Homo sapiens: one gene and its partners. The protein of the gene in region 7 interacts with the protein of the main gene of each other region in a pairwise test. Each region holds a gene or a part of one and is shown on either strand. Other genes may lie near its edges. The genes, in order: PCMTD2, AXIN1, RAB11B, ZNF649, GFAP, MESP1 and SPRED1.

Region 1 (4,083 bases), on a different chromosome or scaffold from region 7:
TGTGCAGGTCTAAACTTACACACCCCACACCACGCATCTACACTCACATGACCCCATATCACGTATGTCTACACTCACAGAGTTTTCTACTCCACTGTCTTTACCAACATGAATTTACTAGTATAGGAAACTGGCCCAGGAAAAGAAAAGTTGCAAGTAACTCAATGGGTCACTTCAGAAACTCTAAAAGCATCACATTACTGTTGATCATCTAACACTCTCTTCAAAGCCATCTCCTCAAAACAAGCATCCAAACTGCCCACCACATTGTCATGATTCTTCATCGGCCAGACGAACCCCACAGGGAACGGCTCGTTTCAACCAGACCCTCAAAAAGTCTCATAAATACCCCGAAGATGCCCCTGCCTTCCCAAACTCTGCTAAGGCTCTGGAAGCTGGTGCCCTCCCCGCCAAGGGCGGCAGTTACTTAAAAGGTTATTCTGATGAGACTTTCAGAGCACGCATTTGACAGATTCACCCTCCACCCGACGACAACCAGGCTTATCCAGGATACACAGGCACTGTATCTTTTATTTAAAGCATCTGATAGCTCTCCCCAGCCTACATGATAAACCCAATTCTAACCTACATACCAGTAGTTTCTCCCATCAGTCCCAACTCTGACTACACGGGGAACACGCATTTTGATTTATGTCCTGCCACTGCTGGTACTTTTCTCCCCTTTCTTCTCTCTTTAGGGAACTCCTTTTTGCCCTTGAAGGCCAAGCACAGACATCACCCTCTGCCAAACCTTCCCTAATTAACCGTTTTGCATGTCCTATTGTTGCTCATTATCAAATTTCAAGAACCGTGTCTAGTTCTTAGAACCTGTACTTAGTAGAGACCAAAGCAAAGTGTAATCATTTCATAGGTGATTCCTAATAAATCAAAAAACCTTTCTGGAAGAGATTTGCCAAAATGTAAAACTTTTTGCAAAACTTTTTTTTTTTTTTGTAAGACTATGCAAAACTTTTCCCTTCCTATTATTTTTTGCATTTTCCAAATTTTCTAAATGATCAGAGAGCATCCTGATAGTTTTATTTTAAATAAAATCAATTGGAACTCTCATTTCTGTGTGAGCCGTTTAAATTTTAAAACATTAGGAGGTTTTGCTGTCGTGCTGGCCCTGGTATCAGTTCCTTGCTCAGTTTGCATCCTGAAATAGTGAAACACAAAGGCTCGGCTGTGTAAGGTTCCACGGAAAGTCTCCTATCCACACCCCAGCAGATTAGCTGGAATGTGTTCTCTAACCTTGTCTACCCATGAGGCAGCAGGCGCTTGGCGCCCTGGGGAGCAGAAGCCCCATGACTCTGTAGGAGCCCTCTGGCTGATGGCTCTTTCTGTAAGCCCCTCCCAGTGGAGGCGGCAAATAGGCTAAGTCTCCCACATGGCAAAATGAGCTCCCTTTTATGTGCGTCCTCGGCTTTCAATGGTGTGACCGGCAACAGCTCTTTGTAGATTTAAAAGACGGCTAAAATTACCTGAAATAGGTTAAAAATAGATTATAATTTTTATAATGCCTGAAATTGCTTGTAGAATTTTACAGTTTCAGCATGGGAGTGGTGCTTTTTAATATCAAAAGGTTTGTTGTAAATTTTGTTTCCTTTTAAAATCTAACCAGAGAGAAAAGATCTAAAAGATAAAATAAGTAAAGATTGGTATACTTACGTAACTGGACAAGTCTTGATTTTCCTGACTCTGAATGGCAGGGCTGGATCAGAGGAGCAAAAGAAACAGCAAGAATCTTTTTGGTTTCCCAAGCTGAAGGACCTGTGCGTGTTATCTTAGTCAACTATCCCAGAGACAAAATGAGAATATTCAAAAGAATTGGCTACTATTTAGCTCATATTTAATCATTCCTATACATACTATAAAAATACATAGAAATGCTTACAATAAAATGAAATATCTTGACATACGGACCCCTAATGTGATGTGCCATGAAGTACATCTACCTTATGAATATTCCTGCAAAGATGCTAACCTGAATATATTCAGGCCCTAGGCCTAACTTCTGTTTACAGAAACTATATATTATAGAGAAACTAGTTATAGGATAGCAAGAGGAAACAACCACATAGACAGTGTGGGGATTCTTATAAGACAATGCTCTAGCACTCTCCAAAAAAGTCAATATTGAGGGTGAAAAGGGGGTCTGTTCTAAAGCAAAAAGTAATTACAGATACGTTACCAACCAACTGAATCCTGACCTGTTGTTATTGGGAGGGTGGCTAAGTCCTGATAGGCACTGTAGTAACAGATACTGTTACAGAATCCCTGTTACTTTTTTAAATGCAAACTTGTCATCTTGGATGCCTGGGCAATTATCCTCATGCTTTGGAGACAAATACTGAAGTGTTTAAATGAGCCTTGCCCTGATATCACCCCCACGAAAGCACCGGAATCTGGTGGCTTAACACACTCCAGTGTAGGCCATCAAAACATTTCTTTTGAATTAAAGTATTACGAGCACCAGAGACCACAATTAGACATGACCCTCTGTGCACTCTGTGTGGCTGGGTCAGTCTCCAAGTGGCCTACACAGGTCACAAAACTATTTCTGGTCAGTTCTTTCATGCTATGATTATATGCTGGCCTTTTCTAAAAATATCTAAGTCAGTAAATCCTCTAAAAACTAAGATTCTATGTCATGAATCTTATAACTAAAAGGATTAAGTCGCCACGTACTAAGTAAATATCAACAAACATTCTTGTATACCAGCAAAACATATGTTTATTTAAACATTTTTAAAAGAATTTCTAGTTACAATGAAAAACAAGTATTTCAATAGAATCAATAAATGATGTATAAAACCTTAAATAAAACTATATAAACCCCTATTTCATATTCTAGATAAGCAGATGAAACATTGTAAAGATGGCCACAATCCTCAAATTATCGAGATGATACAATTCCAATAAAAAATCCAATGCATTTTGTATAGCAACAAAGATCTGTAATATCACTTGTATAAGCAAAGACATTTAAAACAATATTCTGCCAGGTGTGATGGCTCATGCCAACAACTCTGGAGGCTGAGGTGAGGCAATTGCTTGAGGCCAGGAGTTTGTGATCAGCCCAGGCAACACAGTGAGAGCCCATCACTAAAAAAATAAAATTAGGCCGGGCACGGTGGCTCACACCTGTAATCCCAGCACTTTGGGAGGCCGAGGTGGGCGGATCATGAGGTCAGGAGCTCTGAGACCAGCCTGAACAACATGGTGAAACCCTGTCTCTACTAAAAATACAAAAATTAGCTGGGTGTGGTGGCACGCACCTGTAATCCCAGCTACTCAGGAGGCTGAGGCAGAAGAATCGCTTGAACCCAGGAGGCAGAGGTTGCACTAAGCTGAGATCGCGCCACTGCACTCCAGCCTGGGCGACAGAGCGAGACTCTGTCTCTAAATAAATAAATAAATAAATAAATATTTAAAAAATAAATTTATCTGGGCATGGCAGCACGTGCCTATAGTGCCAGCTACTTGGGATGCTGAGGCGGAAGGGTCACTTGAGCCCATGAGTTTGAAGTTACAGTGAGCTATTATCATGCCACTGTACTCCAGCCTGGATGACAGAGCAAGATCTCATCTCCAAATTTTTATTAAAACAATTAAAACCTCCTAATTTTTATTATTTGTGTTTTCCTAGTTCTTTGTGACTGGGAGACATTCTTCTTGGTGACCAATTCATGTCTGATTAATCTGTTCATTTACTATAAACTATTTTTCCCAGTGACATACAGTAACACAGACAAACAAGCATGACCAAACAGCAAACTTGGACAAGACTCTCACTAGGCAAAGGATTCCTGTCAAATGCATAACATCAAGGCATGTAACAATTAGACTAATGATGAGAATAGAATGACTCTATTTTATATATAATTCTAACAGCAGAACAATTATAATAGATTAACAATTAGAATTAAAACTCAGAACAGCTGGGGGGAAGGAGAAGGGGAAGGAAGAGGGAGGTGAGGGGGAAGGGACAGAAGAAGGAAAAAGAGAGAGACAGAGAAGGAAGGTGGAGAAAAGCGTTTCACGTGCAGGCTCTGAAGCACCCACCTGAGTCAGCTTCTGGCC
Region 2 (3,975 bases), on a different chromosome or scaffold from region 7:
AGGACTGGGGCGGGGGTGGCCAGCAGGCCCTTCAGAGGGGGCAGGGCTGGCACCGTCTCCTGCCCAGGCTGAGCCGGGCCCTCCTCTGACAGGTGCTGTGCTTCCACAGCCGTGCCGGGATGACGGGCGGGGCCTGGTTGCTCTCGCACCCCCCACTCGGCTACCCCGCCGCCACCTGTCCTTCAAGTGACTCCAGAAGCTGCCCCTGGCCCACTGGGGTTCAGCCCTTGGGCCTCCTCCTGGCTGGGTGCACCAGAGGCTTCCAGAGCCAACACCAGGGCAGGAAGGCCTCATGGCCACCTGAGCCATGTGACCATCCTCTTTGCACACCAGGCCCCCAGCCACGTGCGCTCTTAGACGTCCTCCCAGTGCCACATCCTCGGAGCCTCCTGGAGCCAGGCCCATCAGAGAAGAGCCAACACGTGGGGGCTGCCCCAGGGACAGGTGAAGGCTGCCCCAAGACCGCCTACACGATGAGGGCCACAACAAACCTGCATCTGGGGCAAGCCTGGCAAGGCCTGGGGGACCCTTGTTCTCAAGGCCCCTTTTGGGGTGTGCCCCCTCCTCCTGCCACCTTGAGCACATAAAGGCGCCGTCGACACGGCCCATGTGGGATCACATGGTCTGAGCCCTTTCTCACGGGTTCAGAGCAGTCAGCATTGTAGGTGGGAGCAGAGCCCCGACTCACTGACTGCACGGGCTGGACAGACACGCATGGCTGAGACCCACACTGCAAGCAGACGCACCCCGGGCACCTCAGCACCTGCAGCCCCGAGCCTGGTCAAGTCAGGCCTGGCAGGGACCGGCCCGTTCCAAGCCGGGTGGAGGCGCAGGCAGGTCTCTGCCCCACAGGAAGCCTGGCCGTGACACCTGTGTGGATGCAGGGGCTGGCTGTGCCCAGGCCTCCAGCCGGGCCTTTTGGTCACTTGTCATCATGCTGGACAGTCAGCGTCTCCTTTGATGGAGACAGGAGAAGGCTCTCGGGCAGCTTCGAGTCTGATGCCACGGGACCCTCTCCTGCCACAGCTGCTTCTGAGCGTGGTACCCGAGCTCAAGCCCCGGGACGGCGGCTCTACGATGGGACCTGGCTTGGGACGCCAGGGCTGGGGTGGGCAGGACCGGGAGGACCCTCAGGACGCACGTACTCTGTCTCGGAGAGCTCCATGTCCGACACGGCTGGTACCACGTGCAGCACCGGCGCGCACGCTGGCCTGACGCAGGCGCGTCCCCGCCGCATAACCTCCTGCACATACCTAGGGAACAACCCGCGTCAAAGGTGGCTGTGCCGGCGGCCACCAGCCCTGGGGAGGGAGCCTCGACCAATGCTGCTGCGCAGGGACGGACGGAGCGTGAAGGGCCCGAACAACCCACCCTGCGCAGGCTCCAGTTTGCAGGGTAGACAAGACACCGAGTCCCCTCCTAGGCCTGCCTTGGTGGTACCCGATACTGCAGCGCGCCCCACATTCATGATCCCGGCACCAACCCCCTGAGTTCCCTGGACCGCACTTTGGGGAGCTTCCGATCAGGGGTGCTGGGATCCCACCACCTCATCCCCTCTGGTGGGATGACATCTCGTCCCGAGAGTCTGTCCTTCAGTCTCTTGGCATGAATTCCCCACCGATAGCGTGGACACTGGCTCTGGGGCGTGCGTGGCAACTCGGTCTGCACCTCAGGGAGGCTGAGGGCCCCCCGGCGCCACAACTGAGGCCATCCTGGGGCAGCACAGCAGCTCCTCTCACGTGGACACCTCCACCGGGGTACACTGGGCGACCTTGATGGTGGTTTCTACTCTGACATCCTGACAGGGCCCAGCACCCAACCTGCCTCTGGGCCTTCACTCCGTCTCCACAGCTTCTCGCAAAAACCCACATCCCCTGGACGGACAAACCCAGCAACTCTGGGTTTCCCCATGGGGGGATGCTGGAGCCCAGCAGCCAAACGGGCGGGAGGGTCGTGTCTCAGAACGGCGGGAGTGGTCCCACGGCTCAGCGGGCATCCCCTGCCATCATGTGGGGCCACGGGTACCAGGGGAAAGCGCAGACGCAACCTGAGAGACCCCTGCTCAGCCCAGCAAGGATGGCTCAGGAAGCCCCGGCAGGAGAGCCCACACACGCCCAGGGCCTCGGACCTGCTGCACACGATGCCCACCACGGCTCATCTGCCAGCCCAGTCACACGCCCCGGCTCCGAGCACCACACTCCAGGCTCCTGCATGGCAGGGGGCTCCAGCTCCTTGTTGGCCGAACACGATCACAGGGTCACAGATGTTTGGTCATAAAGTGGTCACCCTTTGGGTTTGAGGTAACTGTGACCCTTTCTGGCCCCAGAGCTGTCATTAGGCTCACAGCCTGGCAGAAGCTCAGGAACCTTTAATGACTTGAGACCACACAGGCTTTCAGCTGGGAAGGGTCTGAACCCTGATGCTGGTTCGGCAGAATAAGGCCCCTAGCCACAGCCTCCCTGGAGTGGCACAGCCCCAAAGCTGGAGGCCCGGGAGGCGGGCCTGGACCCCAGGCCCCAGGTGACCCAAGGTGGACAGGAGGAGCTGGTGACCTCTGAAGGCAACCATGGCCTCTGTGACCACAGCCCCAGGGCCTGGGTGAGCTATAGGCTCCCAGGACCCTCAAAGAGACACTGATCTGTGGGGAATTCCAATGACCCAGGATGGCCGAGAAAACTGGCCTTATGAGCAAGCTGAAAATGGAGAAGCCAGGTTCTGGCCTGGAGCGAAAATGCTGCCCACACAAAGGGGAGACCTCCCTGCAGCCCAGACAGAAGCCTCCCTGCCCTAGGGAGAGAACAGGGTCTGGCTACGGAGCCCAGAAGACCAAGGAGGGCGCAGTGAGGAGGGCTGTGGGCTGGACGTCCCGGATGAGAGAAGGGCACAGTGAGGAGGGCTGTGGGCTGGACATCCAGGATGACAAGAGGACACAGCGAGGAGGGCTGTGGGCTGGACGTCCAGGACGACACTTCTACATCTGCACGGCTTTCAGAACCACGTAGCTTTCCGACCGTGCAGAGCCACTCAGGGCTCCTGGGACGCAACTGTCAAGAGGCAGCCGCCATGCCTCCAGGACCTCTGCCCTAAAGCCCAGGCTGCCCAGCAGCGAGCAGCCTCTGGCTGGGGACCGGCGTTCCCCACACACTGGGGCCCTGCAGCCTCCCTGCAGACTGGGCTCAGGTTGAGGAGGGACCCCGCCTCCAGAGCAATGAGCGCGGCGGCCTCGGGTGTGTGAAAGCTCCAGCCCCAGCCTCCGTCCACCGCAGGGTGGCCTGCCACGTGGCCCCTCAGTGGTTCTCAGTGGATGGAAGGGCCCAGTATGGCTGGGGGACACCCAGAGGGCCGTTTTTCCCCTGAAGACCTCAGGCCTCGGGGAGCTTCAGCCCCAGGAGTGGTGCTGTGGTAACCCCCAAGACCCACCCCACCCCACGACGCGGCCGTACCTCTGCTTGGAGGGTGCTCGGCTGGCTCTCTTTTCTTCCTCCTCCAGACGTCGGCGCGCCTCCTCCAGCTGGGTTAGGGGGTTGGGAGCTGGGTGGGGTGGCATGGTGGGGTCTTGGATGAAGAGGTGGGAGGGCTGCACGGAGGTCCGGAGCTGAGGGCCGGCCCAGGGGTGCTCAAGGGACAAGGGTCTGGAGTTCTCATGGGGCTGTGGCTTCCTCGTCCCCGAAGACCTTGGGGAACAAGAGAACAAGTTGTGACTGTGGCCGACACCCTGGCCAGGTGGCCTGGTGGGGCTACACTCATCTCACAAGGGCAGCCTCCTTGAGGGATAGGATGGGATGGGGCACTGGGGCCTGGCCACCAAGCCACATGGACGTCCTCCACAGACCACACAATAAAAACATCCCGGCCAGGCATGGTGGCTCACACCTGTAATCCCAGCATTTCGGGAGGCCGAGGCGGGCAGATCACCAGAGGTCGGGAGTTCGAGATCAACCTAACATGGTGAAACCTCATCGCTACTAAATATAC
Region 3 (2,870 bases), on a different chromosome or scaffold from region 7:
CGGCAGGTTTAAAAAGCAAAGGTTAGGGGTGGTGGTGGAAAAAAATCAAACAGGCCAGGTGCAGTGGCTCACGCCTGTAATCCCAGCACTTTGGGAGGCTGAGGCAGGAGGATCACTTGAGCCCAGGAGTTCGAGATCAACCTGGACAACATTGTGAAATCCTGTCTCTACTAAAAATTACAAAAATTAGCGGGTGTGGTGGCAGGCACCTGTAATCCCAGCTACTCGGGAGGCTGAGGCAGGAGAATTGCCTGAACCTGGAAGGCGGAGGTTGCAGTAAGCTGAGATCGAGCCACCACACTCCAGCCTGGGCAAAGAGCAAAAATCCATCCTGCCCCGACAAAAAAAAGAAAAAAACAAGCAAACGAACAAAACAAGCGAAGGTTCAGAGGCCGTGTTCCACCCTGCCTGGCTGGTGCCCTACCCACACCCATCTGGTCCCCGGCCACCTGTGAGGATGTTCTTGAATGCTTCCTCTACGTTAGTGGAATCCAAGGCTGAGGTCTCGATGAAGGACAAGTTGTTCTTTTCTGGAACAAAGAATACTGCCTAGGTGAGTGGGGAGGCAGGGTGACAGGCTCCCACATGCTCTCAGGGACCCCGCCCACCCACCTGGCCCATCCCAAGGCCACTCCTCAGGGAAGGGAAGCCAGGGCTGTGGCCAGGGCCCCAACACTGTGAGGGGCCTCCTGCCTTCCAGACACCTCTCTGATGCCTGCGTCTCCGTCTGCTCACCTGCGAAGGCGCGGGCCTCGTCAGTGGGCACAGCCCGCAGGTGGCGCAGGTCACTCTTGTTGCCCACCAGCATGATGACGATGTTGCTGTCTGCGTGGTCCCGCAGCTCCTTCAGCCAGCGCTCCACGTTCTCATAGGTCAGGTGCTTGGCGATGTCGTACACCAGCAGGGCGCCCACTGCACCACGGTAGTACCTGCAGGGTCAGGGGCCCATGAGCCTCTCTGGAGGACAACCATGGGCAGCGGCAGCCTCACGGGATAACAGCACACATCACGCCCAGGGTGGGTCGTCCAGGGCCGAGCCAAGGGGCAGTCATTGTGGCCTCAAGGGAAGGGTGTGTGTCTGGAGGCCCCAGCGCTGCTCCCTGGATCCAGCTCTGAAATGTGGGGGTCTGAGGAGGGAGTTTGGGAGCTGGAAATAGAAGATACCGTGAGGTCATCAAAAAAAGGGAAGAAGGGGCTGGGCATGGTGGCTCATGCCTGTAATCCCAGCACTTTGGGAGGCTGAGGCGGGTGGATCACTTGAGGCTGGGAGTTTCAGACCAGCCTGGGCAACATGGCGATACCCCATCTCTACTAGAAAAACACAAAAATTGGCCGGGGGTCGTGGCTCATGCCTGTAATCCCAGCACTTTGGGAAGCCGAGGCAGGTGGATCACGAGGTCAGGAATTCAAGATCAGCCTGGCCAAGATGGTGAAACCCCATCTCTACTAAAAATACAAAAATTAGCCAGGCGTGGTGGCAGGCGCCTGTAATCCCAGCTACTCGGGAGGCTAAGGCAGGAGAATTGCTTGAACCCTGGGGGGCGGGGGGCGGAGGTTGCAGTGAGCCGAGATTGTGACACTGCACTTCAGTCTGGATGACAGAGTGAGACTCTATCTCAAAAAAATAAATAAATAGGCCAGGCAGGGTCGCTCACGCCTGTAATCCCAGCACTTTGGGAGGCCGAGGCGGGCAGATCATGAGGTCAGGAGATCGAGACCATCCTGGCTAATGCGGTGAAACCCCATCTCTACTAAAAATACAAAAAATTAGCCAGGCGTGGTGGTGGGCGCCTGTAGTCCCAGCTGCTCAGGAGGCTGAGGCAGGAGAATGGCGTGAACCTGGGAGGCAGAGCTTGCAGTGAGCTGAGACTGCGCCACTGCACTCCAGCCTGGGCGACAGAGTGAGACTCTGTCTCAAAAACTAAAACTAAAAAATAAATAAATTAATTAATTAAATTAGCCAGGCATGGTGGCACAGGCCTGTAGCCCCAGCTACTCAGGAGGCTGAGGCAGGAGAATCGCTTGAGCCTGGGAGGTCAAGGGGGCAGTGAGCTGCAATTGTGGCACTGCACTCCAGCCTGGGCGACAGAGCAAGACCCTGTCTGTCTCCAAAAAAGAGGAGGCGACAGCCAGGCACGGTGGCTCACGCCACCTGTAATCTCAGCACTTTGGGAAGCCGAGAGGGTGGATCACCTGAGGGCGGGAGTTTGAGACCAGCCTGACCAATGTGGAGAAACCCCATCTCTACTAAAAATACAAAATTAGCCTGGTATGGCGGCATGTGCCTATAATCCCAGCTACTTGGGAGGCTGAGGCAGGAGAATCGCTTGAACCCAGGAGGCGGAGGTTGCAGTGAGCCGAGATCGTGCCATCGCACTCCAGCCTGGGCGACAAGAGTGAAACTCCATCTCAAAAAAAAAAAAACAAGAGGAGGTGACAGAGAGACAGATGTACCTGAGGGATGAAGGAGATGGGAGGGAGCCCAGAGGATCTCAAGACGGTGGTGGGAATGGCTGGGGGGCTTGGGAGGGGTCCAGAAAAAGGCAGCTGAGTGGGTCCTGATGGCTGGGAAGCCTTTGCAGGGAATGGAGGCCAGGCCCAGGTGGGAGGACAGGAGGCGTGTGGGACCAGGTGTGGGCACCAGTGAGGAGGGAAGCTGAGGGAGGAGGAAGGCTGGGATGCTGGCTGGGCAGGGGCAGCGGCAAGGCGGAGTGGCCTGAGCTAGGTCCTCACTGCACTTGGTACCCAGAGATACCCTGGTGTGGCGAAGGCTGGGCGCTGGTCAGCCTGAGGGTCCCACGGCGCATGGCTAAAGCGTTCTTCCAGCCTCACTCCCTGGTCTTGGGAGCACACTCTCCCCTTCTCCTGCC
Region 4 (4,711 bases), on a different chromosome or scaffold from region 7:
ATAGAGAAAGAAAAGTGGGTCCAGGGGACCGGTGCTCAGCATACAGAGGACCCGCGCCGGCACCGGTCTCTGAGTCCCTCAGTATTTATTGATCATTATCTCTACCATCTCGGAGAGGGGGATGTGGCAGGACAATAGGATAATAGTGGGGAGAGTGTCAGCAGGAAAACATGTGAACAAATGTCTCTGTGTCATAAACAAGCTTAAGAAGAAGGTGCTGTGCTTTGATATGCACATACATAAACGTCTCGGTGCATTAAAGAGCAGTATTGCCGCCAGCTTGTCTCACCTCCAGCCCTAAGGCGATTTTCTCCTATCTCAGTAGATGGAACATACAATCGGGTTTTATACCGAGACATTCCATTGCCCAGGGACGAGCAGGAGACAGATGCCTTCCTCTTGTCTCAACTGCAAGAGGCCTTCCTTCCTCTTATACTAATCCTCCTCAGCACAGACCCTTTACGGGTGTCGGGCTGAGGGATGGTCAGGTCTTTCCCTTCCCACGAGGCCATATTTCAGACTATCACATGGGGAGAAACCTTGGATAATACCTGGCTTTCTGGGGCAGAGGTCCCTGTGGCCTTCCGCAGTGTATTGTGTCCCTGGGTACTTGAGATTAGAGAGTGGTGATGACTTTTAACAAGCATACTGCCTTCAAGCATTTGTTTAACAAAGCACATCCTGCATAGCCCTAAATCCATTAAACCTTGAGTCAACACAGCACACGTCTCTGTGAGAACAGGGTTGGGGGTAGGGTTACAGATTAACAGCATCTCAAGGCAGAAGAATTTTTCTTAGTACGGAACAAAATGGAGTCTCTTATGTCTACTTCTTTCTACATAGACACAGTAACAGTCTGATCTCTCTTTCTTTTCCCCACAGTGCACTGTTGTTAGTGCTCCAACCTCACAGTGCAGGGGTTGAGGTGTCAGGAGAGGGAACACATCAGTGCCATTTCACTGTCTCCTGTGTCAAAGCAAAATTAAAATGCAGACCAGAATTCAAAAACTCCTGAGCAAACAAAACCCAGTAGGCCTTAAAAACAGCCTTAACCTTGCTTAACCTGCAAACATAAGCAACAATTCACTTGAGTCATTTCTGGTAAATGCTTGTGTTAGGGAAGGACAAAACTCAATCTCAACCGATCAAAAGTAGGCAACTCACATGCTATTATGTCATTAGGGACTTTCCAAGGCAAATTTAAAAAAATGCATTTTTATAATTGTAACTAATCAAATAATTTCTTTGTTTTACTCCTTCACTCACCCTGTGAATACTTGTGTCTAATGCTTTAAGCATAGAAGCGCGAGACTTCTTTTGGTTTGATGCTTCCTAATTCATGAATTGCTGTTTGTTCAGATAAACTCTAGAAAATGCTCCTGCGCCTCAAATTTTTGCTTTCAGGAGAGTCATCCCGGTTTAATGACACAAGAACAACTGTTTCCCTTCTGTACGGCAGATCTACCAAGATGGCCGCGCCCAGAGAGCCGTGGCTCAGGGCGCGGACATGTTACCTCCTCGAAGAGAAGCCCATGTCCCATCGTCCTAGCGCGGCAGAATTGACTCGCGCCCTCGTCCGCCGCCATAGGCCAGTGCCGGGGTTTAAGGGCCAGGAAAGGAAGCATTCAGGGAATTTAGGTGTAGCCAGAAGAAAATCAGGTGAGTGTTTGGGTCTCTCCGTGGAGTAGGTTAAAGGGGTAGGGAGCTTCTGAGGAGCCTGTGGGGAGAGCTGGCGGCCTGGGCGGTGGAGCCTTTGGGTTGGGGTGCCTTTGCGGTCCGGCGTGGGAGAGTTCTTGTGGTCGGGCGTTAAAGGTCTGTCGAGTTCAGCGACTGAGACTCGGCGTCAGAGTTTGGGGTCTCTGAGGGTCACTCTGTTAGTAGGCCTCTGGATCACTGGATGGAGAACTCTAGGGGGACGCTGCCCAGCACGCCGGCTTTATCACCGACGCCATTATTATCACTCCAAATGCTGCAGTTTAAAGTCGGTGATGAAGCCGGGGTGCTGGGCAGCGTACGAGGGTGTGTGGTGTAGGTTTTGGGGTGAATCGGGGATGTGTGTTAAGTGTTTCGGGGAGGCCCAGGCATGTGGGGCTCAGAGGCTTGTAAAATCTGGTATTTTACAAGCCCAGGCCCCTGGCTGGGGTTGAGTTGTGAAACTATAACCGCCCACCCTTGCCGGCTGCCTAGACAGAGCCGACTTGTTAAGACAGGGAAATTGCAATGGAGAAAGAGCAATTCATGCAGAGCCGGCTGTGCGGGGAGACCGGAGTTTTATTATTACTCAAATCAGTGATAAAAGAAAAATTGAAGCCGAATTAAATTTACAGGAGTTTCCTTGAGCAATGAACGATTCGCGAATTGGGCAGCCCCCAGAATCACAGCAGATTAACAGAGACTCCAGGGGTGCCTCGTGGTCAGAACAAATTTATAGACAAAAAAGGTAAAGTGACATACAGGAATCGGAAGCGAGGTCCAGAAACAGTGAGATTGGTTACCATTCGGCGTTTGCCTTATTTGAACGCAGTTGGAACATTCAGCAGTCTATGAGTATGGCCGCTGGGACTGGCCACCACTCAGCTATTGTTACAGGTGCATACGATTAAGTTCGGTTTTCAATTTTGTCTGTTAAGCTAGGTTGCAGTTTATCCACAAGGACTCAAATATAGAAGTATGGAGTCGTTCTCAGGCAATATTTAGTTTGCTTAAGCATCAGTCTCCTTGAGCATTTGGGGATCAAAGTTTCCTCCTATCCCCCAGACGGAATCTAGCTCTGTTGTCCAGTCTGGAGTGCAGTGGTGCGATCTCAGCTCACTGCAACCTCCGCCTCCTGGGTTCTAGCGACTGTCCTGCCTCAGCCTCCCGAGTGGCTGGGATTACAGGCGCCCGCCACCACGCCCGGCTAATTTTTGTATTTTTAGTAGAGACAGGCTTTCACCACGTTGGCCAGGCTGGTCTTGAACTCCTGACCTCAGGTGATCTGCCCGCCTCGGCCTTCCAAAGTGCTGGGATTATAGGCATGAGCCATCGCGCCTAGCTATGATTGTTACGATTTATAAGAAATGTATAATCGATCTTTGTCCTGTTTCCTGGCACATGTCTCCCAAAAGCCTTGGAACCTCTTCAGTAAACAGTGCCTTTTTGTGTGGCATTGAGATGGCTGGTGACTGGGGGCTTCTGGCTGGCCTTAGGACGGGGGAGGCTGGTTGCCAGGGCAACTAACCATGTCATTTGAGGGTTGGAAATTTTAGCTCTGCCTGGCAACAGGGAAGTTGAAGGTTGAGTTGATCACCAGTGGTTAGTGTTTTAATCAAGTATGCCCACATAATGAAACCAGCGTAAAAACTCAAAAGGACTGGTGAACTTCTGGGGAACTTACAGATTCTTGAGCATGTGGAGGTGCCTGAGGGTGGTGAACTGAGTCTCTAATAAGCTTCCGTGGAGGGCATGGAAGTCCCACGCCCCTTGCTACAAACCTTGCTCTGTGCTATCCCTTCCATCTGCCTCTTCATCTGTATCCTTCGTAATATCCTTTATTCCTTTTCCCATTTGCCCTGAGAATACTCACCTTTGGTGCTTGCAGCTGGAGCATTTACCCCGAGATAACTTTGCCATGAACGATCTCACTTTTATTATTTTCACATCGCTCTAGTAGGTCGCCTTGGGAAACAAAAGACATCATTCTACTTATAGCATTCTGTTTTTAGTAGTGGTATTTCCATTTACAAAATGTAGTAGTTCTCGATCACTGAAAATGTCAAATCCTAGAAAACGTAGCATTCCTACATGTGATGTTAACATCATTCTCAAACAGTTCTTGGCTGAAGACTCACTGGATGGATCCGATTTTTACCAAATCGAGAATTCTGATGATTCCAAATCGAGAATTCTGATGATTCAGATGATTCTGATGTTAGTTCTGTTTAGAAATAACTCCTAGAACAGCTTTTATATTTTATTTTCACATTGAAAATCAGATTTACTGCAGCCTCAAAGAGCATGTTTATGTAAAATGAAATAAGCGCTGGCAGTGAGCTGCACTTCGTTTTTCTAGACAGGAAAAGAGTTGAAATAAACCAGTAAATGTTAAGTGCTTTCCTGAGTTCTGTGAGCCATCCAGCAAATTAATCGAACCTGAGGAGGAGGCCGTGTGAATCCTGATTTATAGCTGGTCCATCAGAGGTACAGGTGACAACCTGCTGCTTGCAACTTGCGTCTGAAGTTGGGGGCAGGCTTGAACTGAGCCCTTAATCTGTGGTGTCTGACACTATATCTAGATACACAGTCTCAGACTGAATTAAATTATAGGATGCTGTCTTAGCCTTGTTGGTGCTGCTATAACAAGATAGCTGAGACTGGATAATTTATAAACAACAGAAATTTATTTGTTATAGTTCTGGAGACTGAGAAGTCTAAGATCGAAGCACCAGCAGGTTTGGTGTCTGGTGAGGGCCTGATTTCTGCTTTCAATATGGTGTTTTGTCGCTATTTCTTTGGAGGTGAAGAATGCGGTGCCCTCACATGGCAGAAGGCAGAAGAGCAGAAAGGGCCGATCTGTGTGTGAAGCCTCTTTTATTTTTATTATTATTTCTTCTTTCTTTAGGTTTTTTTTTTTTTTTTTTTTTGATACAGAGTCTCACTTTGTCACCCAGCCTGCAGTGCAGTGGCACCATCCTAACTCACTGCAGTCTCAACCTCTCAACCTCCCAGGCTC
Region 5 (4,083 bases), on a different chromosome or scaffold from region 7:
AAGGAAGGAAGGAAGGAAGAAAGAAAGAAAGAAAGAAAAAGAAAGATTAGCCAGGTGTGGTGGCTCGCACCTGTAATCCCCTTACTCGGGAGTCTGAGGCACGAGAATTGCTTGAACCTGGGAGGTGGAGGTTGCAGTGAGCCAAGATTGCACTACTGCATTCCAGCCTGAGTGACAGAGGGACGCTCTGCCGAAGGAAGGAAGGAAAGAAGGAAGGAAGGAAGAAAAGAAGGAAGGAAGGAAGGAAGGATCAGGAGACCAGAGCTCAAGAAGTCCCAACTTAGCCACCAACCAGCCACATGACTCTGGGCAAGTTAATTGACCTCTCCCAGCCTCAGTTTCCTCATCTGTAAAATAAGGATGATGGGGCCTACTTCTCTAGGTGGGAGAGAGGAGACAATTAACTAAAATAAAGGCTGTTAAACATGTGGCACATATTAGTGCTCAATACACATAGGTCCCTTTCCTGTCCCCTTTCCTCTTTCCTACTTCTCTCTGCCATTTATCTGTGCTTTAGTGACCTGTGACTATCTAGGATTTGGCAGTATTACCTCTACTAGTCAGCCTGGTTAGCCTTTCTGATGCTGAATTAAGTCCTGAGACATGCATATCTAGTGGTCCTAAATATTCTAGTCCAGAAGAAGAGGAATTTTGTTCCTTAGCTAAGAATCATTTCAGGGCCAATGCAAGTAAAAAGTAATTTAGCTCCCCCCTCCCCCCGCCCCGCCCGAGAGAGAAAAATATAACACGTCACATTCACTAATATTTAACATTAAGAGCAGGGAACATAAAACTTTATTCACTGCAAGAGCTGCGGTCCTGAGGGAAGAATCCTCTGAACTGAGTCAGCACTGAGCTGAGCGATGGAGCCTCAGGGATGAAAGAATAAAGCAGAGAGCCTGGCGTCCAGGCACAGCGAGACCCAAGGGGCCCTCCCAGTGACAGGAAGAGGTGAGACAGAGGCTGCTGCTTGCTCAGAGGCCCCAGAGCAGCTCCACTGCGCACCCAAGGACTCACCACCTTTACCACTAACAAGCTCTGCCAGTTTAATGTACAGTTACTCTGTACCACGTCCTGGGCTGGGCACTGCAGTTCCTGGGAAAATGACGCAGTCCAGGCCCTTTAGGGGAAGCCTGGGAAGAGGGAACTCAGGGGGATTGGGAGGATGGGGTGGGTGAGGCTCACTCCCTGTCAAGCTGGGCAAAGCGCCGTGTCTGAGAGGCAGGCAGCTAACCGCGAGCCGGCGGCGTTCCATTTACAATCTGGTGAGCCTGTATTGGTATAACTCGTATTGTGAGGCTTTTGAGATATCTTGTGACCTTGTGATTTTCCCCGTCTTTGGTGCTTTTGCCCCCTGTAGTGACAAGCAGTTAAAAAAACAAAAACAGAAAACACTCAGAAGGGCAGTGCTTGCTCAGGGATCTGCAGACAGGGCAGATGTCAAGCTCTCACCCAGTTCTGCTGTCGAATGGGGTGCAGGGAGGGGAAGAGGGACCAGGGCCTAGCAGGACAGGGGCAGCTGCAAGCCCCACCTAGAAGTACCCTGGTATGATAGGCTCTGGCTAGGAGCGCTGCAGTGTCACGAAGGCCCCCAGGGAGAGCTGGATCCCTTTGCCCTGATCCTCAGTCCCAGTCTGGAGCAACCTACAGGCCCTGGAGGAGGGGGCAGGACTCCAGTGCCCTTCCCACGAGGCCCTGCTGTACTGACCTCGAATCTGCAGGTTGGAGAAGGTCTGCACGGGAATGGTGATCCTGAAAGAAAGCAGAGGGAGAGGGCTGCCCGGGCTGCCTGGGACACCCCTAGGCTGGGTCTTGGTGCGGGGCCATCATGACAACTTGAACGCCCTTTTCCTTGCCAGGAAAGTCTAACTCCATCTCCTAGCTTTTTCCCCAGCAGCCAACGTGCTATCTGGAGTTCCAAACGTCTGCAAGGGGCTTGAGTGTTATCTGGGAGGGGCGCATGTCTATCTGAAGGAAGATGGAAAAGGGAGGGGAAAGTGGTGAAGAAAGTTCCAAGGAGGCAGAAGAGATGGGTGAGGTGAGGAGTCCAATCTTGGCTGGGAAGATGGGGAGTATGCCTCTTAGTTTGGAGGGTGACCCAAGTCCTTGGCCTTGAGGCCTAATCAATATTGGTTGAATCCATCCATCCATTCAGTCATCAAACATCTAGTGACTGCCTGCTATGTGTGAGGCAGGCACTGTGCTGGGCATTGAGGTGGGAAGGGATCTGCACACAAGGCTGAAAAAGACTCAGTCCCTGAAGGGAGCAAGATGAGCTCTACCGTGAGGCAGCAGGGAGACTTCCCCAGGGGCTGTGATGAGGGCTCACCGGTTCTCCTCGCCCTCTAGCAGCTTCCTGTAGGTGGCGATCTCGATGTCCAGGGCCAGCTTGACATTGAGCAGGTCCTGGTACTCCTGCAAGTGGCGGGCCATCTCGTCCTTGAGGCTCTGCCCCTCTTCCTCCAGCCGCGCCAGCGCCTCCTGATAACTGGCCGCCTCCCGCACGTGCCGCTCCTCCTGCTCGCGCATCTGCCTCTCCAGGGACTCGTTCTGTGGGATGGAGCCGGCCGGTCCCGCGGAGCCCCGACCCGACTTGGGGAGGTTTCGAGGCCCGGCCCCCGGCCCCAGGCCCCGCCTCTAGCCCGGGGGTAACGTTCAGGCCCCGCCCTCGACCCAGGTCCTCGTCCCTGGCCCTTCTCCCCTGGCATCTCCTGGGGTGGCCGTCCCTGCTCCGCCCGTCCCCGTCCTGCCCTGGCCGCGCTCACCGTGCCGCGCAGAGACTCCAGGTCGCAGGTCAAGGACTGCAACTGGCGCCGGTAGTCGTTGGCTTCGTGCTTGGCCTGGCGGAGCAGCTCCGCGTTGCGGGCAGCAGCGTCTGTCAGGTCTGCAAACTAGGTGGGGGACACATATGGGGGGCTGTGTGGGCCCATGGGCAGGCACGGGCTCTGGGAAATCAGGGAGGTGAGCAGCACCCCAGTTAACCCCAGGACGTTGGCCCTGGCTGGGACTTTTCCCAACAACTGTGACCCATGGATGCGGGCAGGGTAGCGGGCTGCCAGACCTCAGCACCTAGCACAACACCTGGTCAGCAAGCGAATGAATGAACAGTGCCACAGAATCCAGAACCTTCCACACTGACAGCTGCATCTGCGGGACTGAACGCTGTCGTCTTAGGCGAGCGGAGGCCTGGGTGTTTTGTGTGTTTTTGTTTTTTTGTTTTTTTTGTTTTATTTTGAGACAGAGTCTTGCTCTTGTCGCCCAGGTTGGAAGTCAGTGGCACAATCCCGGGTCACTGCAACCTCTGCCTCCCAGGTTCAAGCAATTCTCCTGCCCCAGCCACCTGAGTAGCTGGGATTACAGGCATGCGCCACTACACCCGGCTGATTTTGTATTTTTAGTAGAGACGGGGTTTCACCATGTTGACCAGGCTAGTCTTGAACTGCTGACCTCAGGTGATCCGCATGCCTCGGCCTCCCAAAGTGCTGGGATTACAGGTGTGAGCCACCTCGCCTGGCCTCACCCTGGGTTCTAATAGCCCTTTCTCCCCTGCCTGCAGGGAGGTCCTCCCAGCCCCATCGGGCCCTCACCCTGCTCAGACACCAGTGGCTTCTGCCACTCACACTCCTCAGCTAGGTGCCCTGGCTAGGCTAGCATCTTGGGGCCCTGCCTCTCTGTGCTTTTCTGCCTCCAGGCTCTGTCCTCCACTAGGAATGGCCCTCCCTTCTTCTCTTCCTGTCCACAGCGTGCCTGTCCTGCCTAGCCCAAATGCCCCCTCTACAGTGTCTTTCCTGGCTCCCACACTACATATAAGCTCTGAGCTGTGGTGTTCTCTACGGGCACTATGTTTGGGTGCACGTCAATATCACACCTTCCAGGTCAGACACCTCTCTGTGTCCTGGGGGGTGCCTGGCATATGGTAGAGGCTCAGTAACCCAAAACAGACTGGCAGAGGCATGGAATGCAGGCTCCCAAGTGAGATGTGCTAGAGTTGGAAATCCAACTCTACCACTTAGGAGCTGTGTGACTTTGAGCAAATTAGTTAACCTCTCTGGACTTCGGCTCTCTCATCTGTCAAAGAACAGC
Region 6 (3,767 bases), about 51 Mb from region 7:
TGGTATGTGAATTGTATCCTAATAAAGCTCTTATAAAAACAGACACTGAAGCCTGTGTTTCAGACACTTGAAGGAGAGGAGGGGAGAACTGGGTATCTATCCATAGAGGGTAAAGGACGCTTGGCAGAGAGGCTACACATCCCTTCTCCCCACCGCACCCTCTAATCATGACTGTTGCCCAGACACCCTGGCTGGATGAGGACACACTTTCTGGGCTCAAGCCTCCCGTTTCTTGCTCCCTGATGTGAATCCAGCCAATGCAGACAGGCACGCAACTGCCTGTGTGGATTCCGATGCAACCCCATGGGCCCCTCATCTCACCCCATCTAGGCCTGTAGGAGGTCATGGTTATATAAACTCAGGACCGCCACACCATTATTTATGTCTCTAAGCCACAAGGTGGGGAAACCAGAGAAAAGGCAGATGGGAAAATGCCGGCGGAGGGTGGGGGAGTTCCAAGGCCAGGATGCTCCCGTGCATGGAGAATAAGACCACAGGATGCAAGAAAATAACCCCTTGGAGCTGTTATCCCTCAGGCCCCAACATGTATGGAGCTGGCAAAATCCCACAAGAGCTGAGCGCTGGGACTCTGGAGGCCTACCTGGGCTTGAGCGCTGATCCTCATCCTTCTGTAAAATGGTTACTTGAGTATAATAGGTACCTGATGTACATACAATAAATACTCAATAATGGAGTTGTATTTCTACACAGATATTTTGGTTTTAACCAGTTCCCCACCAGGTTCAAAGAAAAGATGAGCAGATTCTACTTGCCGCTGCCTTCTCACAGGACGTCCCTCCCCACCCATTCCAGGCTGACCCATCTGGACTAGATGCTGAGCCAGGGCTGGGGGTAAGGCCAAAGGGGTCTGGGCCTGTGGGGGTCGGGGGGCTAAAGATTGCAAGAACCCCTCCCACCTCTCCCATGCTCTTCTTTGGAGGGAGAGAGGGAGCTCTGTGTCCACGGGTAGGAAGAAGAAATTGCCAACTGACACCAGTACAGTTTATTCACAAATAAATAAATTCACATTAGGCAGAGCCTCCTGCTTGCCTCAAAGTGTCTAGCCCTATGGGTCCCTCCATGGAGGGAGGGGCTGAGAAGGGCCGCCGCGGTGGGGACGGCTCTCACCCGCAGGAATGCCCCCGTCGGGATCGCCCGTGCCCTCTTCCAGGAAAGGCAGTCTGCCAAGGAACCACTTCGAAGGTGCTGAGGCCAAAAAGCCTCGGTGCTCACAGAGACGGCGTCAGTTGTCCCTTGTCACTTGGGCTCCTCAGGCAGCCACTCCAGAGGCGAGAGGGGCATCCAGGTCTCCAACAGAGCCAGCACGTCGCCCGGAAGGAGCTGTAGGGAGAGACGGAACAGCGCAGCCCTCAAGCACTGGTGGCCTTGTGCGGGTGTCCGCGCTCGTGGGCTCCACTCTCAGGGGGCCCCTAGCGAGGGGAGACCCAGTCCTCTGCGTGGCCTTTCCCTGCCTTCGCTTCTTGGAGCCCTGGGCATACTATGGTGGCCAGGTGGCCAGGCTGCCGGCGGGGAGCAGCAGGGTGCCTGGTCCTCACCTTGGCGGGCGGTGGGGCTGTGCGCGGGGGCACGGACGAAGGGGGCGCGGGGAAGGGGACACTAACCGGGGACGGTGGGCTTGGCTCCATCGCCTGCCCTTCAGGGCACGCCGCCTCGGCGAACAGCGCAGGCGGGTCGCGCGGCTCGGGTGCAGCTCGGGCTCCGGGGCAGGCAGGCGGGGATCCCCAGGACGCCCCGGCGCGGACGGCGGATACCAGGCCCAGCCCGCGCCCCTGCCCCTGCCCCTCAGCCTGCGTCCGTGTCTGCATCTGCGCGGGGCAGTCGTCGGGGCACAGCGGGCAGCCCCGAGGGGACCCCGCGTCACCGCGCTGCCGGCACCGGCGCTGGAGACTCTCCTCGCTGAGGCCTAGCACGGCCGACAGGTGGCCGATATAGCGGATAGCCAGGCGCAGCGTCTCGATCTTGGTCAGGCTCTGGCCCGCGGGCGCCACGGACGGCGGTAGAAAGCGGCGCAGCTCGTGCAGGGCGCGGGCCAGCGTGCGCATGCGCAGTTTCTCCCGCTCACTGGCGCTCTGCCTCTGCCCGCTGCCCAGGCGGCTGCTGCGCGCGCCGCGCCTACCTACGGAGGGGGCGCGGGGGTCCCGGAGGGTGCCTGGCCGCGCGGGGCTCGCCACGGGGCTGTCGGCTGGGGTGCTGCCCCATGAGTCTGGGGACGAGACGAGGGAGCGGCCGCAGTCCTTGTCGGAGGGCGGCGGCCGCCGAGTTGGGCCCCAGGCCGCAGAGAGCATCCAGGACTCGGAGAGCGGCGGGCACAGGGGCTGGGCCATGGCAGCGGCGGCGCGTCTGGGGGCCGGCGGCCGGCGGCCGCTTTATGCCGAGCCCGAGGTGTGAAGTGGCCCCTTCCAGGCCGCATCAGCACATCAAAGTGGGCTCGGGGCTTGGAGGGGGCGGAGCCTGACCCTTTGAATCCACGGCGGGGGGCCAAGGTGCCAGCCCCTTGACTGCGCCTGTTTCGCCCCACCTGGGCCCTCGCTTGGGCGCCCGACCCAGCCTCTCGGCCTTCCCGCCTGCGCCCAGTGTTGGGTGAAGCCCGGGGCGTTGGGCCAGCCCTGCAGGTTAAAGGAAGCGGGGTCAGAAAAACGAAATCTAGATCCTAGGTTTGGGGCCTGCCTTCACCTGTTGGGGACCTTATGCAAATTCTTAGTTCTTTTGCACCTTAGCTTCCAATTTGTATAATGAGAGCCTCAGGGCATGCGCCAATTGGACAGTGGAGTAGAGTAAGGACCAGGAGCAGGGACCCTCATTCCCTCTAAAGGTGGAGAAAACAGTAAACCACTTCTCCTTTGAGGCAGGATGGCCCTGGGTAGACCCTTCCCTGGTAAGAACATGTGGACAGTGCAAGGAAGCTTGCACCCCGGCAAATTCAATAAGCTGCCGAGTCTGGTCAGGATGCTGGACCTTCTGAGCAGAGGGAGGGGGTTAAGCCTGCTCCAACCCCAGGCCACCTCTAGCCTGGCAAGGTCTGGAGCTTGGCCTGTTGCCACAGCTGTCACCACTGGCCTTTACCTGATGTTCTGCCGCTATTGGACAGGTATAACAGGTTTTCCCAATGAAATGTGAGTGGAAATGACGCAGCAAAGGCATTTGACAAAATCCAACACCCTTCGTGATGAAAATTCTCAGCAAACTAAGAATAGAGAGGAATTTCATCAACCTGATGAAAGGCTCCTACAAAGAACCTACAGGTAGCCTCATACTGAGTAGTGAAAGACTGAAATCTTCCCCCCACCCCCCGATTGCAGGAACAAAGCGAGGGTGTCTCTCTTACCACTCCTATTCAACATTGTACCAGATGGAGGATCTAGGCTATGCAATTAGGAAACAAAAGACATACAGGTCAGAAAGGAAGAAATAAAACTCTTTTCGCAGGTTATGGCAGCTCTGGGCCCTGCTGCGCATGAGCCTGACCAATTTAAAGCGGAATCCTGGCTCCAGGAAACCCATGAGACGACCAAAAGGTCGGAGAAGAGGTAGAAAATGCGGCAGAGGCCATAAAAGAGAAAGGCAGAGAGGAAACTGGCTCTGCTGGGCTTTGGGGATGGCCAGACTCTATTTTACATCGGAATCCCAAAATACAGATTTAATGAAGGACTTAGCTTCAGACACCAGTATCAACCTTTAAGTATCAATAGACTGTAATATGTTACTGATTTGGGTCGTGTTGATCCTACTCAACCTATTGACTTAAC
Region 7 (4,083 bases):
TCATTCCCATGTTTTAGTATTTGTTACAGCAGCACTCCATTTTCAGGTCTTCAGAATCTGCATTAGTCAAAAATCATTCCCAAATTTAGTGGCTTAAAATAACAAACATTTATTATTTCACAATTCCTGTTGACCAGGAATTCAAGAGCAGCTTAACTAGATGGTTTTGGCTCAGGGTTCCTCATAAGGTTGCAATGAAAACATGCCACAACTGGTCATCTATTAAGGCTTGCTTGGAGCTGAATAACCTGCTTCCAAGGTGGTTCACTAATATGGCTATTGTCTGAACGCTTCAGTTCCTCACCACATGAATATCTACACAGTGTTGCTTGAATGTCCTTTTAATATGGCAGTTAGGCATCCTCCATAATGTGGGTGACCTCACGCAATTAGTTGAAAGGCATAAGAAAAAAGATTGAGGTCCTCTGAAGAAAATAGAATTCGGCCTTCTCATGACTGCAACATCAACTTGTGCCAATTTTCAGCGTGCCTGCCCATTCTGCCAACCCAGCCCACAATCTTATGAACCACTTCCTTAAAAAAGAAAAAAAAAACCCCAGAAACTTTACTTTCTATATAAAGATTGATATCTCTTATCTGAAATGCTTGGAACCAGAACTGTTTCAAATTTCAGAATATTTGTATGTGCATAATAAGACATCTTAAGGATAGTACCCAATTTAAAGATGAAATTTATGTTTATACACCTTATAACACACAGGCTGAAGGTAATTTTATACATGATTTTAAATAATTTCGTGCATGAAACAAAATTCTGACTGCATTTTTAGTGTGATTCATCACATGAGGTCAAGTGTAAATTTTTTCTACTTGAGGTGTCATGTCCATACTCAAAAAGTTTCGGATTTTGGGGCCAGGCACGGTGGCTCAGGCCTATGATCCCAGCACTGTGGGGAGGTGGGTGGGTTGCTTCAGCCCAGGAGTTCGAGACCAGCTTGAGCAACATAGCAAGACCTTGTCTCAAAAAGAAAAAAAGTTTCAGATTTTGGAACATTTCAGATTTTAAATTTTCAGATGAGGGATGCTCAACCTGTATTGGTTCTTTTCTTCTGGAGAAATCTGACAAATAGAGTGTCTTAGAAATATTCTTAGTAATTGATAAGTTTATTGAATAAGGCTAGTGATTTCTTCCACATCCTTTATGTTTACAAATTCCTTCCAAGCCATTACTTACTTGTAAGTCATCTGCCCCTTCAGCTTCATTTTTTGATTCGGGGCATCCTAAGAAAATAGATAAAAGTTAATTAAGTATAGAATTTTTGTCTTAGAGTCCAGTATTAATGACTAATTGATTATGTCATTATAATACTTTAGAAGACTAATCAGAGATCTTTCTGGACTGCCTGGCAATTAAGGTACTGGCCACTTGCATTTGCCCCTGTTAGAATAATGGAGAATAATGTAATTATTTCCCTCCTCTATAGGTAAATTTCCAGCTGCTTACTAACGAGATGTTTTCTCTGAAAGTATACTATCTCTAGCTACCCCTGCCCCTAGTTTCTCCCAAATACTCAAAATTACTAGGCAGATTATAATTACATTGCTCTGGTGATGCTAAGATGTGATTTATTCAATTTTTCTAAATGCTTTGACCCAGGAAACAGTATTTAGTACCCATAACCAGGATTTTAGTTGCTTTAGCTAAGATGGAAAACAAATGAGTTTTAATCCACTATTGACAGTTAATGGCCAATTGTTGTTACTGACTTTTTTGCATCAACGTCTCTGTACAGATTTTCATGCTGTTAAGAGTACCTTTAGTTTCAATAAATTAATAAGAAAGGATTTGTCCTAGCAAAGTACTCTTAGTTCATGCTACCCTTGAGAGGCACAGCTTAGCACGGAGTAGGCATGAGATAAGAAGAAATGCGCCCTTTGGAAAGAGCAGCATATTTTATCTTTTTGTCACAGAAGGTCGAGTAAAAGCAATTTGAGATTGTTGAAAGTCTATATAGCAGCTGATAATAATGCTAGCTAATGTTTTTTAATGTTCAAAAATAACAAGGCAGACTAAGTACTGTAGTCTACTCTACCTAGAAGTTTGTAAGCTACTCCTTATAAATCATTTTTTAAAACATTAAACCCAATCTGTTTGATCCTAGTGAAAGAGGTATACTGTTATGGTACATGAGCATAAACTTAAAAGTAATTCAAAACTTTAAATCATATAAATTCCAGCAGCCATGGATACTATTTTTCTCTCTCTTTAAAGCACTGGTTCTTCAAACCTGGCTAAAGGTTAGAATCAACTGAGGAATTGTCAAAAAATACACTGATGCCAGAGTATGGCGTCAAACCAAAATATATCAGAATCTCTGTGGAATGAGGCACAGAACATCATGTATTTTTTTTTTTAAGTTTCTTATTTTTTTTTCTTCAAATTCAAATTACAATTCCTTGACTAGAGAACAATTCTTCACCATATTTGAACTTTCTTGGAGTTTTTGAAAAATAAGGGATGACTCGACTCTATTCCCCAGATAGATTCAATTGGTCTGGAGTGCAGACTAGTCATTTTAAGCTTCAAAAGCTTCCCAGGTGATTTTAATGTGTAGCCAAGGTTAAGAACACTGATCTAAGGAGAATTTATGGGGTCTTACAATAAAGACAAAATGGCTACTATTACTTCATAGTAATTTTTTCTGGATCAGAATAAAAAATTACTCATTTACCAAATTCTAATCTTTTAAAGTAGCTAAATAAATTACTTAACTACAGTTTTATGCACTATCAAAACAGATTTGTACAATGTATTTCCATGTTCTTGCCTGTGACTGGTCTCACAGTTTATGTTTTCAGATTTTCTTATTAAAATGACATCTTCAAAATAACACAAATCACAACGTAGTCTAGCACACTTTCAGTTACTTTATATAGAAAGTTAGTTAAATTGAAATAATTTTCCTCCTAATTAGAAAAAAAAATCAAGTCTTAGTTCTTCCTTTATGGGAAGAAATGGGTTTTAATGTGATTTTTGTTTAAGTAAGCATAAGCCAGTCTTACATGAAAAAACATTATTCTTCCCTTCAAAACCTGTATGCTTTTGAGTTAATAATTTTAATAGACTGGCAAGATAACAAAGGAATAGATGAGCTTGTGGTCTCTGCCAATCCTCAATAATGAAATCAATCAAGTAAAGACTTTTGTCATGGAATAACTAGAGTCTACATACATTTGAATATTACAAGTTCTATATAATTACCCAAAAAAAGGATGTGACTGGTGTCATACATACACAAGTAGAATACCAACTGGGATTCTCGCAGCTGTACATTTCTATTCCCTCTTCCTTCAAGCTCTTATTTTAAAACATTTGAATTATCTGAAGTCAGCTGTTGATGGACTCTTCAAGATAATACATGCAATTGACATAGACTATGATGTGACAAATACAAATCACGTTAAGGAATCTATTATTTTATCTTCATCTATTGTGAGGTTTCAAAGCCTGGTCACATATCACAAAAGCTGACATGGTTAAAGTGTGAAAACTACTTTGGGTCAACTTTAAGAAAGATAACCTCTACTATATATAACCGATAAATAAATTAAGAAAATAGTCAAGAATACCTACCTTGAGAAATATCCTCTATAGCTCTTCGGATACCTCTATCAAAAGCCCTAGCATCAGCAGGACTTTGAAACGTAAGACCAAACTTCTTGTCATCAATCTTCCAGTGGTGAAATGTTGGAGTGACCTTATTATAAATGAGGTCTTTTTTAAGCATACATTCCAAAACCACCTGACAAAAGCCAAATACCAAAAATTAATATACATATATCAAATGCATCTAATGTAGCTCATAAATACAAACTGAGGTGATACAACGCTATTACTTTTTAATGAATAATTTTTAGTATTTTAAATAAAGTGGTCTACTTCACAAAGTCACTCAATAAAGAGATTAAGATGGAATAAAAAAATGCACATTATAAACAGGATGCTTATTATACTCCCATTTTAAGAATACACACATATATACACTCCCATTGCATACAAAATTTCTGGAGGAATATATCAGGAATTACTTCCAGGAAACAGGCAGGGGGTTGGTAATAATA

The links.
Region 1: the proteins of SPRED1 (region 7) and PCMTD2 interact in binary tests that used the Homo sapiens proteins (3 or more experiments, as listed by UniProt).
Region 2: the proteins of SPRED1 (region 7) and AXIN1 interact in binary tests that used the Homo sapiens proteins (3 or more experiments, as listed by UniProt).
Region 3: the proteins of SPRED1 (region 7) and RAB11B interact in binary tests that used the Homo sapiens proteins (3 or more experiments, as listed by UniProt).
Region 4: the proteins of SPRED1 (region 7) and ZNF649 interact in binary tests that used the Homo sapiens proteins (3 or more experiments, as listed by UniProt).
Region 5: the proteins of SPRED1 (region 7) and GFAP interact in binary tests that used the Homo sapiens proteins (3 or more experiments, as listed by UniProt).
Region 6: the proteins of SPRED1 (region 7) and MESP1 interact in binary tests that used the Homo sapiens proteins (3 or more experiments, as listed by UniProt).

Annotation. Positions count from the first base shown.
Region 1 is NC_000020.11:64,265,596-64,269,678, reverse strand, and holds part of PCMTD2 (protein-L-isoaspartate O-methyltransferase domain-containing protein 2), read right to left. Parts: intron 1,793-4,083; coding exon 1,669-1,792; intron 1-1,668. UniProt on the Homo sapiens protein: May act as a substrate recognition component of an ECS (Elongin BC-CUL5-SOCS-box protein) E3 ubiquitin ligase complex which mediates the ubiquitination and subsequent proteasomal degradation of target proteins.
Region 2 is NC_000016.10:290,045-294,019, forward strand, and holds part of AXIN1 (axin-1), read right to left. Parts: intron 3,675-3,975; coding exon 3,444-3,674; intron 1,254-3,443; coding exon 1,146-1,253; intron 1-1,145. UniProt on the Homo sapiens protein: Component of the beta-catenin destruction complex required for regulating CTNNB1 levels through phosphorylation and ubiquitination, and modulating Wnt-signaling.
Region 3 is NC_000019.10:8,400,145-8,403,014, reverse strand, and holds part of RAB11B (ras-related protein Rab-11B), read right to left. Parts: intron 930-2,870; coding exon 736-929; intron 531-735; coding exon 450-530; intron 1-449. UniProt on the Homo sapiens protein: The small GTPases Rab are key regulators of intracellular membrane trafficking, from the formation of transport vesicles to their fusion with membranes.
Region 4 is NC_000019.10:51,901,862-51,906,572, reverse strand, and holds the start of ZNF649 (zinc finger protein 649), read left to right. Parts: upstream 1-1,555; 5' UTR 1,556-1,659; intron 1,660-4,711. UniProt on the Homo sapiens protein: Transcriptional repressor. Regulator of transcriptional factor complexes and may suppress SRE and AP-1 transcription activities mediated by growth factor signaling pathways.
Region 5 is NC_000017.11:44,908,907-44,912,989, forward strand, and holds part of GFAP (glial fibrillary acidic protein), read right to left. Parts: intron 2,892-4,083; coding exon 2,766-2,891; intron 2,551-2,765; coding exon 2,330-2,550; intron 1,753-2,329; coding exon 1,709-1,752; coding exon of another isoform or gene 1,563-1,708; exon of another isoform or gene 1,355-1,562; coding exon of another isoform or gene 1,230-1,354; exon of another isoform or gene 766-1,229; intron 1-765.
Region 6 is NC_000015.10:89,748,887-89,752,653, forward strand, and holds MESP1 (mesoderm posterior protein 1), read right to left. Parts: upstream 2,364-3,767; 5' UTR 2,346-2,363; coding exon 1,623-2,345; intron 1,342-1,622; coding exon 1,258-1,341; 3' UTR 989-1,257; downstream 1-988. UniProt on the Homo sapiens protein: Transcription factor. Plays a role in the epithelialization of somitic mesoderm and in the development of cardiac mesoderm. Defines the rostrocaudal patterning of the somites by participating in distinct Notch pathways.
Region 7 is NC_000015.10:38,321,922-38,326,004, reverse strand, and holds part of SPRED1 (sprouty-related, EVH1 domain-containing protein 1), read right to left. Parts: intron 3,765-4,083; coding exon 3,596-3,764; intron 1,243-3,595; coding exon 1,196-1,242; intron 1-1,195. UniProt on the Homo sapiens protein: Tyrosine kinase substrate that inhibits growth-factor-mediated activation of MAP kinase. Negatively regulates hematopoiesis of bone marrow.